Homo sapiens: one gene and its partners. The protein of the gene in region 1 purifies or fractionates together with the protein of each later gene. This does not show direct contact. Each region holds a gene or a part of one and is shown on either strand. Other genes may lie near its edges.

What was found. The genes of interacting proteins can lie anywhere in the genome.
Region 2: the proteins of COQ8B (region 1) and TIMM44 purify together in Homo sapiens (affinity purification with mass spectrometry; one large-scale study listed by BioGRID and IntAct). This does not show direct contact.
Region 3: the proteins of COQ8B (region 1) and GOLPH3 purify together in Homo sapiens (affinity purification with mass spectrometry; one large-scale study listed by BioGRID and IntAct). This does not show direct contact.
Region 4: the proteins of COQ8B (region 1) and CLPX purify together in Homo sapiens (co-immunoprecipitation; one large-scale study listed by IntAct). This does not show direct contact.

Annotation. Positions count from the first base shown.
Region 1 is NC_000019.10:40,696,387-40,699,886, forward strand, and holds part of COQ8B (atypical kinase COQ8B, mitochondrial), read right to left. Parts: intron 1-3,500.
Region 2 is NC_000019.10:7,930,167-7,933,666, reverse strand, and holds part of TIMM44 (mitochondrial import inner membrane translocase subunit TIM44), read left to right. Parts: intron 1-96; coding exon 97-182; intron 183-734; coding exon 735-827; intron 828-915; coding exon 916-1,040; intron 1,041-2,478; coding exon 2,479-2,529; intron 2,530-3,500. UniProt on the Homo sapiens protein: Essential component of the PAM complex, a complex required for the translocation of transit peptide-containing proteins from the inner membrane into the mitochondrial matrix in an ATP-dependent manner.
Region 3 is NC_000005.10:32,126,768-32,129,319, reverse strand, and holds part of GOLPH3 (Golgi phosphoprotein 3), read left to right. Parts: intron 1-2,552. UniProt on the Homo sapiens protein: Phosphatidylinositol-4-phosphate-binding protein that links Golgi membranes to the cytoskeleton and may participate in the tensile force required for vesicle budding from the Golgi.
Region 4 is NC_000015.10:65,182,543-65,186,782, reverse strand, and holds the start of CLPX (ATP-dependent clpX-like chaperone, mitochondrial precursor), read left to right. Parts: upstream 1-1,440; 5' UTR 1,441-1,629; coding exon 1,630-1,708; intron 1,709-4,240. UniProt on the Homo sapiens protein: ATP-dependent chaperone that functions as an unfoldase.

The DNA of each region.
Region 1 (3,500 bases):
CCACACGTGGTGGCTCACACCTCTAACCCTAGCACTTTGGGAGGCCAAGGTGGGTGGATCATGAGGTCAGGAGTTTGAGACCAGCCTGGCCATCATGGTGAAATCCCGTCTCTACTAAAAATACAAAAATTAGCCAGGTGCGGTGGTGCGTGCCTGTAATCCCAGCTACTTGGGAGGCTGAGGCAGGAGAATGGCTTGAACCTGGGAGGTGGAGGTTGCAGTGAGCCGAGATTGTGCTATTGTACTCCAGCCTGGGCAACAGAGTGAGACTCCGTCTCAAAAAAAAAAAAAAATACTCCCCATCCACGTGGAGCCTCCTGTGTATCCCGCCCTGATCACACCTCCCCCAGGTCCCCAGGGTCACCTCTTTCCTACAATCATTATTAAATTATTTCCTGAAATTCTCATTTATGCATTTCTATATTTTCTATGTATGTGTACAGCTGTAAACAATCTAGAGTAATGGTGTGCATATTTTCAAACTTCACAGAAGTGGTATTTACTGTCGTTCTCCTGCAACTTGTGCTTTTTGCCCAGCATGGTTTTGCGATTTATCCCTGTTGCCATGTGTCGCTCCAGCTCAGTCACTCATTTCACACTGCTGTGTAAGGACTTCGTTGCGTGAATCTATCACAGTGCATTTATCTGGCTGAGGAATACTGTGGTTGTTTCTGATTTTTTTTCCTTCTTTTTAAATATGTTTATTAGTTATAAACTCTGTTCTGACATTTTTTTTTTTTTTTGAGACAGGGTCTTGATCTGTTGCCCAGGCTGGAGTGCAGTGGCACGACCATGGCTTACTACAGCCTCAAACTCCCACGCTCAAGTGATCCTCCCGCCTCAGCCTCCTGGGTAGCTGGGACCACAGGTGCACCCCACCACACCTGGCTAAGTTTGAAACATTTTTTGTAGAGATAGGGTTTCACTACGTTGCCCAGACTGGTCTCGAACTACTGGGCTCCAGTGATCCTCCCACCTCAGCCTCCCAAAGTGCAGAGATTACATTAGTGAGTCATCTCACCTGGCCTGTTTCTAATTTTTGTGCTCAATGAACACCTGTAAGAATGTTTCTAGGGCAGTAGAGTTTGAACTGACCACAACCCACAGTAAGAAATTGTTTCTACTGGTGGCTGGGCGTGATGGCTCACACCTGTAATCCCAGCATTTTGGGAGGCTGAGGGGGGCGGATCACCTGAGGTCAGGAGTTCAAGATCAGACTGGCCAACATGGTGAAACCCCACCTATACTAAAAATACAAAATTAGCTGGGTGTGGTGGCGCACGCCTGTAGTCCCAGCTAGTTGGGAGGCTGAGGCAGGAGAATCACTTGAACCCAGGAGGTGGAGGTTGCAGTGAGTCGAGATTGTGCCACTGCACTCCAGCCTCCATTCTCAACAAGAGCAAAACTCTATCTCTAAACAAACAAATAAATAAAATTATATATATATATATATATATATATATATAGAGAGAGAGAGAGAGAGAGAGAGAGTTTCTACTGGGCGTTCATGCAAATGCACACAAAAACGTCAAACAAAAGTGTCCCAAGGCCAGGCGCAATGGCTCATGGCTGTAATCCCAGCACTTCGGGAGGCCAAGGCAGGCGGATCACCTGAGGTCAGGAGTTCGAGACCAGCCTGGCCAACATGGTGAAACCCCATCTCTACTAAAAATACAAAAATTAGCTGGGCGTGGTGGCAGGCACCTGTAATCCCAGCTACTTGGGAGGCTGAGGCAGGAGAATTGCTTGAACCTGGGAGGCGGAGGGTGCAGTGAGCCGAGATCACACCATTGCACTCCAGCCTGGGTGACAAGAGCGAGACTTCATCTCGGGGAAAAAAAAGAAAAGTGTCCCAAAATAATATGGATCCCTCCCATCTGTGACATACTGACATCATCTATTCCATAAAAAAAAAAAAAGTGCTGGTGGATCATGAGGTCAGGAGTTCAAGACTAGCCTGGCCAAAATGGTGAAACCTCATCTCTACTAAAGATACAAAAAATTAGCCAGGTGTGGTGGCGGGCACCTGTAATCCCAGCTACTTGGGAGGCTGAGGTGGGAGAATTTCTCGAACCCCAGAGGCAGAGGCTTCAGTGAGCTGAGATCGTGCCATTGCACTCCAGCCTGGGCAACAAGAGCAAAACTCTGTCTCAAAAAAAAAAAAAAGTCCTGTTGGAAACCAATAAATTGATGTCAGGACTCCTATCACTTGGAGTTGGGTAAACATATCCCTGGGGTATGAACCTAGGAGGGGACACAGGGTGTATGCACATTGTGGAGAAAGAAGAGGCAAGGGACTAGGGCTGGAGACTCCGTGGGGCCACAGGATGCTCAGCAAAGGGTTCAGACTTGATTCTGAGGGGGCTGTGAAGCTGTAGGAGGGATATCTTGACCAGATTTGTGCTTTAGAAAGACCCCTCTGGGGACAAAATGGGGATAGACCACTTTGGAAAACAGTTGGCAACCCCTGATAAAGGTAATGATGTATCCACCAACACTCAAGTCTGCAGGTCCAAACCTTCACTACAGGTCTTTGTACACCCCCTGCCCTCTGCTGGGAACACTCTGCTCTCTGGATGGTTGTCTCCTTTTCCCCTGTCCCATCTCAGCCTTTTTTTTTTTTTTAAATAGAGCCCAGGCTGGTTTTAAATTCCTGGCCTCAAGGGATCCTCCTGCCTCAGCATCCCAAAGTGCTGGAATTACAGGCATGAGCCACCATGCTCAGCCTCTGGTCTCAGCTTTTTTTTTTTTTCTTTGGTGAGACAGAGTCTCGCCCTGTCACCCAGGTTGGAGTGCAGTGGCATGATCTTGGTTCGCTGCAGCCTCGACCTCCTGGGCTCAAGCCATCCTCCCACCTCAGCCTCTCAGTGGCCTCAGCTTTAATGGCACTTGCTTTAAGAAGCCTCCCTTAATCCCTGCTCACCCCACAGTGAGTCAGGCACTTTCCCTGGGATCCCATAACTTCCTGTGCCTCCCCCAACTCCAGCCCCCACCCCTCTGCCTGTGCCTCCCCCATCCCGGTCCTGACCCATCTGGCCTGTGCTCCTCATTGTGGTTGGTACGAACCACTCTAGGTCATCGCTGTGTGGTGCCAGGTCCCCCCACTGGACTGGGCACTCTGAGAAGGCAAGGGTCAGGGATGTCTTTTTATTGCTGTCAAGAGGCAAGGGCAGGTGATGGTGTGTTCTGTATGGATGACGAGTGTGGTAGTGATGGCTAACTGCCTTCCAAAAGCTGTACTTCCCCTCTGTGCTGTCACATTGCCACCAGGAACCACTGCCTAGCCAGGGACTCCATTTTCCAGCATGCCTTGCACCTAGGCAGGCTATGTCACTAGCTCTCACTGATGGAATGGCAACGGAAGTGCTATGTCCATTGCCCCAGGATGAGCTTAGTGTATTTAGCCTGGGCATTACTTTTTCCACTTCTGGCCAAAGCAGTTAGGCAGGGGGCTACCCTCAACCTCTCTTACCCTTTCCTTGGGAAGCAGAGCGTTGCAA
Region 2 (3,500 bases), about 33 Mb from region 1:
GCCTGCTGTCCTGTACTGCCCCCTGCCTGCAGCCGCAGGAGGGCACAGGGTGGCCCTGGCGCCGCCGCTCACCCCAGGGCCCACCCTCTTCCCCAGGGAGGCCCTGGGGGTCGTGCTGCACAAGGACTCCAAGTGGTACCAGCAGTGGAAGGACTTCAAGGAGAACAACGTGGTGTTTAACCGTGAGTGAAGGTGTCTTGGAGGGCAGGTGACTGTGTCCCGGGCAGTTGGTGGACCGCAAGGTGATCCCCCTGCATTGGGCACAAGACAGCCCCGTTTTGCAGAGGAGGAGATCGGGGTCAGAGTGGGCCGGTCACTTCTTTGCGGTCACATGATGGTGGGGCTGTAGATTCTGCCGCCAGAAGCCAGGTGCTCCCTCATAAGCACAGTCAGGGCCCCGAAACGAGCCGCAGGCCCCTGTCCCTTGTCCTGTGAGGACTGCTAGAGGCCTGTGTTTCCTTTGTAGTGAAAGCAACAGCCAGTGGGGTGGCGGCCCATAACTTACACAGCCCCATTAGGGCCGCAGCTGAGGGGCCTCTGCGCCTGGCCAGGTAGGTGGGCAGGCAGCGGTCCCCAAGCACAGATGAGGATGCAGGTCCACAGCCGTCCCCTCCCTGACCCCACCCGTGTCAGGGTGGATCCCGCAGGGGTCACAGGGAGCCTCTAGAAGCTGTGAGGGAGGGTTGTGTTTCTGGAAGGGGCCCCTTCTCCAGCACCTACCCCATCTTCCACAGGGTTCTTCGAGATGAAGATGAAGTATGACGAAAGCGACAACGCGTTCATCCGGGCATCCCGGGCCCTTACGGACAAGGTCACCGACTTGCTGGGTGAGTGAGTCATCCCTGGACCTCGCAGGCTGGTGGTGGGGCGGGGTCCCCGGCCTTCCCCCCGAACTCCCGGCTCTGCTCCCTGCAGGGGGCCTGTTCTCCAAGACAGAGATGTCGGAGGTGCTCACGGAGATCCTCCGGGTGGACCCGGCCTTTGACAAGGACCGGTTTCTGAAACAGTGCGAGAACGACATCATCCCCAATGTCCTGGAGGTGGGTGCCACACCCCCAGGACCCCTCCCAGGCGGCAGGTCCTGGCTCCACCACCTCCCCCGCCGCAGCCGGCACCCTGGGTGCTGCCAGGGAACTCTGCTGCCGAGGCTGTTTTCTGAGGAGGCTGGTTGCACACGGGCTCCTGCCCGGCTGCAGCTGCCCCATGAGCTGTGCCCGAAGCCCTTCCTGGGCCTTACCGGCACCTCCGGTACCTCCAGGTCTGTTTCCCTCACTCCTCCTGCCTGAGGCTGTTGTTCCTTTGAGGTTGCTGGGAGCAGCTGCTGGAGGCTAGGGATTGTCTCAGGTGCCTGGAGCCCCTCACCCCTTGGGAGAAGTGGGCGTCTGTCTTCAGACATCAGAGCTGGCCCCAGGCCACGTCTGACCCAGAGCTGCAGCCGTGAGGTTCCCTCACGGTGCTGTCCCTGGCAACCAGACCCTTGTTGGGCTTATAGATGAGGGTATCTTGCTCAAGGTCATGCTGCAGCCTGCCCCCTATAAGCCTCTCCCTGAGGTTGGTGGCCTCTTGTCTTCCCTGCTGCCTCTGCCTCTCTGCAGCCCCCAGGATGCAGGAGGAGCCTGGACACCTTCGGCCCAGTCGGGCCAGGCCTCTGGAAGGCCCTTCATGGGACTCTCCATCCTTGGCCCCGCCGGCCTCCGCCCAACGTCCTCTTCCTCCTCCAGTTTCCCGTATCCTTCCCGCCACTTCGGGCAGGGCTGGGAGGTGGTGCGGATGGGCGCCATGCCCCAAAACAGCAGCCTGAGCACCGCAGTGCCTTCCGGGATGGGTGATGGGTGCCAAGTGTTCTGGCCACCCGCCCCCTGCCGCTCACAGCTTTCACCACCAGCATCCGGCTCCTTCCCGCTCTTCTCCCCGCTCCAGGCACCTCCCTCCCCCTCATCGGATCCGGCCCAGGCTCCAGGATCCTGTGGAAGCAGCTCCCAGCCCAGGCACGCCCCCTGCAGCCCACCCCTCCCTCTCGCTGCCCCCAGCAGTTAGGAGGCAGCCGGTCCCATGGTGGGCCTTGCAGTCCGAAATGTGGTCCCCTGGGGGGACAGAGGACATGGGCTCACTGCGGGAGCCGGAGTTGGGTCCTCATCTCCCTGGCTTGGATTCCTGACCAGGCTGAAAGCTGGGTCCCCAGCCACCTTTCTCTTCCTCCACCAGGTTCCAGGGGGGTCCCCCTGTGGGGTGCCTCCTGGGTGGTCGCCCGCAGGCCGCCCTCCGCCTGTGCCTAGGCCAGAGCCAGGCACTGACACCAGCAGGGACGGGCCTGGGGGGGACACCCAGTGCCACAGCTCCACCCGCGCCCCACAGGTGGCAGCCGGGGGTGTCTGAGGAAACTCCCCACCCCGCACCACTGGAGAATGTTCCCAGGACCTCGCCTGCTGCCTGAAAAGCCCACTCTCGTTCTGGTGCTTATTTTCCCTTCCTTTTTAGGCCATGATTTCTGGAGAGCTTGACATTCTCAAAGACTGGTGCTATGAAGCTGTGAGTACTTCCTTTCTTTTTCTTTTTTTTTTTTTAAGGCCTAAAAAATCACCATGGAGAAGTTCCACTTCGGTGGCTCCGTTGGGGTAGCTCCCAACAGGCAGGACCTGGGCTCCCGGTGGGGGAATCCTCACGTCTCACCCTCCGAGAGCCTGACATCCCCCCCTGCCCCTTTCCATTCCTCAGCATGTGACACATCTGGGCTCTCAGGCTGGACACCGGGTCACCCGCCAGTCCTTTGCTCCCAGACTGTAAACTTTGTTAGGGAGAATCCTTCTCTGGGCTGGTGTCTAAGAGATGGCTGGTTGGGGGTGTCCCCTGGGCCTGTGAGAGATCACAAAGCTGCCAATTTTACTGGGCCTTTTTTTTCCCTCCAATCTTAAAATAATTTTGGTTAGGTCTGGGCACGGTGGCCTATGCTTTCAATCCCAGCAGCCCAAGGCGGGAGATTGCTTGAGCCCAAGCATTCAAGACTAGCCTGGGAAACATAGCAAGATCCCGTCTCTACAAAAACATTTAAAATGAGCCAAGTGGCAGGGTGCGGTGGCTCATGCCTGTAATCCCAGCACTTTGGGATGCCAAGGCAGGCGATTGCCTGAGCTCAAGAGTTCGAGACCAGCCTGGGCAACATGGTGAAACCCCATCTCTACTAAAATAAAAAGTTAGCCAGGCATGCTGGTGCATGTCTGTAATCCCAGCTACTGGGGAGGCTGAGGCAGTAGAATTGCTTAAATCCGGGAGGTGGAGGTTACAGTGAGCTGAGGTCGCGCCACTGCACTTCAGCCTGGGCAACAGAGCAAGATTCTGTCTCCAAAAAAAAAAAAAAAAAAAAAAGAGCCAAGCATGGAGGCAGGCACCTGTTGTCCCAGCTATTAGGGAGGCTGAGGTGGGAGGATCACTTGAGCTCACGAGGTCAAGGCTGCAGTGAGTCATCGCAGCACAGCACTCCAGCCTGGGTGACAGATCAAGAC
Region 3 (2,552 bases), on another chromosome or scaffold:
TAATAGCCCTATGAGCTTGATAAATTTGTTACTTTCACTTTATAGATGAGTAAATGGAGAAATAGATTAAGATGACTTGCACTAGGACACTAGGGTTTTTTTGGTTTTGTTTTTTGGGGGTTTTTTTGTTTTTGTTTTTGAGACAGTCTTGTGCTTGTCACCCAGGCTAGAGTGCAGTGGTGCAATCTCGGCTCACTGCAACCTCCGCCTCCCGGGTTCAAGCGATTCTCCTGCCTCAGCCTCCCGAGTAGCTGGGATTACAGCCACCTGCTACCATGCCTGGCTAATTTTTGTATTTTTAGTAGAGACAGGGTTTCACCATCTTGGCTTCCCAAAGTGCTGGGATTACAAGCGTAACCCGCCATGCCTGGCCCCGGCTAACTTTTGTATTTTTTGTAGAGACGGGATTTCACCATGTTGCCCAGGCTGGGACTGTTTCTGTTGACTCCCCCCTTACCCCTAGTTTTAGGTCACTTTTTTGCTGCTTTGCAAGTTTAGTGATTTTTTTTTTTTTTTAACTTCGATGCTGGACAGTGTGAATGTTAAGTGATGAATTTTATGGTCTTTCTTTAAAGAGTGTTGAATTTTGTCTTGGTAGGCAGCTAAGTTACTTGTGGATCAACTTGTTTTTAATTTTTTGTTTTTGTTTTTAAATTGTGAGATGGAGTTTCACTCTTGTTGCCTAGGTTGGAGAGCAATGGCACGATCTCGGCTCACTGCAACCTCTGCCCTCCCCCGGTTTAAATGATTCTCCTGCCTCAGCCGTCCGAGTAGCTGAGATTACAGGCAACTGCCACGATGCCCGGCTAATTTTTTGCAGTTGTAGAAGAGATGGGGTTTCACCATGTTGGCCAGGCTAGTCTCGAACTCCTGACCTCAGGTGATCCACCCGTCTGGGCTACCCACAGTGCTGGGATTACAGGTTTGAGCCACCGCGCCTGGCCGCTTTTAATCTTTATTAGGGCATGTCTAGGGTGGTCTATACTCTAGGACTGGTTTAGCCCTACTACTAAGATGTGAATTTTCTAGTATTCCTTCTGAATGTCCTGGTTTTTAGTGAGGCTTTTGCTCTCTGGCTAGTTGGCAATCACATTTTTCCCAGCTCTACTGAACTCTTAGAATTGTTCACTTTCTGGTAGGTGTTCTTTGCCTAGCTTTGTGGAATTTCTCACCCTAACACATGTAGCTTTAGCTTTCAGCCCAAGACTCAAGGAACACCTTGCAGATTTCTAGACCTCTTTATCTGTGTAGGTCCCCCTTCTCCAGTAGTCTGCTTTGCACACTGCAGCTGCCTTAGCTACCCTGAACTCTGATCTCTGCTGCCTTAACGTGATGGGACTGCTGTGCTCTGCTTGGGTTCTTCCTGCCTGCTCTGCTGCCTGGGACGTGCCTCTAGGTGGTAAGCTTAGGCAGTTGTCAGGCTCACATAGGCTGCACTCAAGTGTCACAGTTCTGGGCTGCTTTTGACTAGTGTCTGAAAACAGTTTTTTCGTATATTTTATGGAGATTTCTAATTACAATGAGAGGGCAGCTTTAGGAATGATTACTTCATCATAGGCCTATGTTGTTTAGTATTAAGTATAGGAAAATAATTGTGTCTCTGTCCAGTTGAATGGTAATATATTTTAAGACAGCAACTTAAAATTTTAAGATAGTCCGCTAGAACTTTCTTTGATGATGAAAATGTTCTGTTCCTGTGGGGTGTAGCCACTGGCCATACGTCACTATTGTATACGTGAAATGTGGCTAGTGCCACTGAAGAGATGAATTTTTAAATTAATTTAAATAGCTCTATGTGGGTAATGGCTCCTGTAATGGACAGTGTGGCTGAAGGTTTTCTCTCAGTATTAGAAAATCTCGACCTTACAACGTTTGCATTTAAAAAAGATGCCTGTGGTTGATCTTTAACATATTCTAATTTAGAAAAATATAGTTTTTTTAAGTATAAAAATAGTTGCATGTTCATTGGAGATCATTTGGAAAATGCAGAAAGCACAAAAAAAGTTGAGCACACATAATCCCAAAGATAAGTAAGATTAATATTTTGGTGTATTTCCTTCCAGTTTTCTATAAAGAAGAACCCACTTTAGTGAAAAATCGTTTGGTTTTATTTTAAATATTTCTCTCTCAAAAGGAAATATGTATGGATGGCAAGGTTAAAATTGTGAAAATTTGTATCCTTCCAGAATTAGCTTTATATTGTTATCAAATAATAGCATGGCCTAAACAGGCTTTCCTACCTCTATAGGCTGTATATGTGTAGCAGTTTCAGGAATAACATATTAATCAGGAAGCTTTTTTTTTTAGTCTATTAGTTGCAGACTGGTGTTTAATAGAAAACTTATTTGGCTATTGGCTGCTTTTTGACTTCAGCTGGAAGGAAGCTCAAACATAATATTTGGCTCATTTCCACATAAGACTAAGGGTTACTGACTCTGGTCTGAAGACTGCTTGCAGTTTAGTCGTCTGAGTGACTCCTGTGGCTGAGGATGTGCTGGGTGCTTAGAATCCAAAGGTCTGGCTAGGCTTAAGGGGTTCATGGTCTAGTTAGG
Region 4 (4,240 bases), on another chromosome or scaffold:
TATGTAGTTCGCAAAAAGTAAATAACTCAAGGAGTTAACTCCTCCAGTGTAAACTATTTGAGCTGGAAAACTGCACTTGACTTTCTTTTTAAAGCGTCATTAATCTGTCAGAAAACAGCTGAAAGTAGGTGTGATGTGGAAGGGCTGATGTGACCACAAGTATTTGCCATCACTTTCCTGGTGAAGGATCCATTTTCTCACAGGGATAATCTCAGATGGCTCTGGGTTTTTTTTTTTTTTTTTTGAGACGGAGTCTCGCTCTGTCGCCCAGGCTGGAGTGCAATGGCACGATATCGGCTCACTGCAACCTTCGCCTCCTGGGTTCAAGCAATTCTCCCACCTCAGCCTCCTGAGTAGCTGGGATTACAGGAGTACGCCACCACACCTACCTAATTTTTGTATTTTTAGTAGAGATGGGGTTTCACCATGTGGGTCAGGCTGGTCGCAAACTCCTGACCTCGTGATCCACCTGCCTCGGCCTCCCAAAGTGCTGGGATTACAGGTGTGAGCCACCACGCCCAGCCGGCTCTGTGCTTTTGAATTCATAACTTGAGAGGATGGCCTGATAGGAACCTGACCAGAGGTTATCTATGCAGTGCCATCCTTAATCACGGCCGGGTGCGGTGGCTCACGCCTGTAATCCCAGCACTTTGGGAGGGCGAGGCGAGAGGATCACTTGAGCCCAGGAGTTTGAGACCAGCCTGGGCAACATAGGGAGACCTCATCTTTACTAAATTAAAAAAAAGAAAGAAAGAAAAGAAAACCCTCAAGACTTTAAAGCACCCACGGACTAGCAACAGCTAGAAGCTTTATCACCACGAGGCCTGAAAGAACAAGGAGACGGAGCTGTTACCAACTAACAATTGCTGCTCAGGGAACTAACTGACAATACCAACTCCATGTTACAAGTGATGAAACTAAGGAGAATGAGAAGATAAGGAACACAGGATGTGGAATTCCGGGGGAAGAAATTTAGTGAATCTGAAGCATCCAGCGCCTACCAAGGCACTTTAGAGACTTCCCCCTGGAGGGTTAAGCCACCAGCCTCACCTTGACCTTCCCTGCCGCCCACTAAAAGTGACCGGAAGAGCTCGACTATGACGACTCGGGACTACAAGTCCCGGCATGCATCTCTCCGCGTCTATCGCAAAACCTTTCAACTTTAGGATAAAAGGGCTTTTGGCAACCTTGAGCGTCGGGACCTGTAGTCGCCCCAGTTGGGGCTAGACGCTTGCCGTAGGGAACTCATTGGCGCCCAGGGCACCACCCCCTCGCCTTCGCCTCACGTAGCTTCACCAGCTCGCAAACACGGCGCGTGCCCACGCCCTCCGCCCCCTCCCCGGGCCTAGGGCGCAGGCGCGCGCAAGCTCCCCGGGCCCAGTAGGCTGGGGGTGGGGGTAGAAGGAGAAGGAGGGGAAGGGAGGGGGGGGTTGGGTGTCTACTCTGGTGAATAGACGGCTGTGGGGCAGAGAAGCGTGAAGGCCTGGCTGCCGGGCAGGTGAACTCTCCACGGGGTCTAGGGCCCGCGAAAGGGTTCGGAACCGAGTCAGCGCGCCTTGCGGGCAGGATTCACGCCGCTGTGACCCGGAGGTCCTCAGGGGGCGAAGCCCCGGCCTAGGCCTCGCGGAGATGCCCAGCTGCGGTGCTTGTACTTGCGGCGCGGCGGCCGTCCGGCTCATCACCTCCTCACTCGCCTCCGCGCAGAGAGGTAACGAAATAGTGCCACTCCTGAGCCCTCAGCCTGTCGGGGGGGGGGTGGACTGGCCAATGGTTGGGGGCCCCGGGGAGGGCACGAGGCCTGCTGCACCCGGGGAGTGTGAGGGAATGCGCGGCGCTTCGCCCGGCACCCACCACTTTCCCCGTGGAATGGGGCTCTGCCAACCTCTGGAGCAGCCGTTGCTCAAATTGGAAGTAAACTCCTTCCCACGCGCCTGCCTGCACGCTTTCAGGCCTGCTGACTTTGGGGCCGGAATGCGGCCACTTTGTAGAAACCCTGAAAGGCACAAAATGCTCCTGTTATTAAAAAATGTCTCCAGATCCCACTCAGCCCTGCCGGGGACCGCCGCCTGCCATGGCTGCGGCTCTTCTTCCGCAGCCTGGCCGGGATCCCCCTCGGGCCCGTTGGGGGCTCCAGGAGGGGCTCGGCTGAGGATCTGTCCCTACTAGGGTCCCCCAGGACTCGGGGCACCCAGCTGGCCGTCCCGGACGCAAGCCGCGCGATACCCGAGATGTTACTATCACTGTGCGGCCCTGACACTGGGACATAAACAAGGTTCACAATACTTCCCGGCGTCAGGCAAGCCCCGGGGCCCGCAGGACAGCGGCGGGAGAGATGGGGAGAAGTCCCGCAGGAGTTGGTTCGGAAGTACTTGGGTGTTTCAGCAGTCCTTTGCTGGCTTTCCCAACTTGACCGGGAGGTAGTTTCCTAAGAGTGGCGCATGTTGTTTACCTTTTCTTTCTGTTTATCTGAAGCTGTGAAAGAATGGCGCCCCAGCCAAGAGAGTCTGGAAAATAAACTTTTTTTCTCTTCCTCAAATCTGTGGAAGTCAGACCACGAGGCTAGATCCTGTTATAATGACTGACTTCTAGACAAATTCGTTTTATTTTGGCTTATCGGTTTATGACCCTTGGATGGATTTTTAAAAAGGCCCCTTTTATCTAACTTCTAAGCCAATTATAAAATCCTTATTGTTTACTAAATATATCTTCCAGTTTCTTTACTACAGAAGGAAGGATTGAATGAGGTAACGTGGGCAGAAGCATTTTGTAAAATGATATATAAATGTAAGGGAGTAAATTTAATCCTAAATCGATGTTAAGCCTCAACCAGTAGATGTCCCGATTCCAGGAATTCGATTTGCAAACACTTTAAAGTGACATATTTTAATCCATTTATCTGATATATATTAATATTTGTCAAGGGTCCACTGTGTGTCAGGCCTTCTTTTAGTGCTGGAGGTAGAGTGGTGAATAAGTCCTCACCCTCATGTTTAAATCTAGTGGAGTAGACAAAGAATAATACAGTTTCCAGTGGGTGGATGAAGTATGTGTGTGTTCCCTTTGGTCAGGGACGGCTTCTTTGAAAGTGTTACTGATCTCTTGTAGCCAAGAGTCCGTGAACATTTTTGAATCATAGGAGATAGGCAGTTATTTTTTTTTCTTTTCAAAACGACTGTTTTCTTTCTTTTTCTTTTCTTTTCTCCTTCCTTCCTTCCTTCCTTTCCTTCCTTCCTGTCTTTCTTTCCTTTCTGTCTTTCTTTCCATCTACTATCTGTCTTTCTGTCTGTCTTATTTTCTTTCTTTTTTTTTTTTTTTTTTTTTTGAGACAGAGTCTCGCTCTGTCGCTCAGGCTGGAGTGCAGTGGCCAGATCTCAGTTTACTGCAAACTCCGCCTCCTGGGTTCACGCCATTCTCCTGCCTCAGCCTCCCGAGTAGCTGGGACTGCAGGCGCCCGCCACCACGCCTGGCTAATTTTTGTATTTTTAGTAGAGACGGGGTTTCACCGTGTTAGCCAGGATGGTCTCGATCTCCTGATCTTGTGATCCGTCCGCCTCGGCCTCCCAAAGTGCTGGGATTACAGGCGTGAGCCACCGCGCCTGGCCTCTTTTTGTGTGTCTGTCTTGATGGAATCTGCTAAGTTGCCCGGGCTGGAGTGCAGTAGCGCGATCTCGGCTCACTGCAACCTCCGTCTCCTGGGTTCAAGCAATTCTTCTGCCTCAGCCTCCTGAGTAAGCTGGGGTTACAGGCGCGCGCCACCACGCCCCACTAATTTTTATATTTTTAGTAGAGACGGGATTTTGCCATGTTCGTCAGGCTGGACTCCAACTCCTGGACCCCAGGAGATCACCCGCCTTGGCCTCCCAAAGTGCTAGGATTACAGGCTTGAGCCACCGCACCCGGACTAGTATTTCTTTTTAAAAACAGTTGTTCTGAAATTTAGAAAGCTTTGTCTGTATGATAAAGTTCTGTAAATAGTGAAACTTAAATTGTCTTTTCTGGTTGCTGCCAGGTAATCTGGTGAAATATACTTTACAGAAACACTTCTCTTTTTTGGCTTTCAGAGCTTCACCTGGGGTTTACAGGCCTCCAAAGGGTCCTTGAATAGAATTCAGAGATTCTGTGAACTTTATTTTCACTAAGCTCTAACTGAAACACAACGTTTCCTTGGCCTATGAATGTGGGCAACACATCCACAGTAGTCTTAGAAGTGTCTGTGGATTTGTCATCAATCAAAATCAGA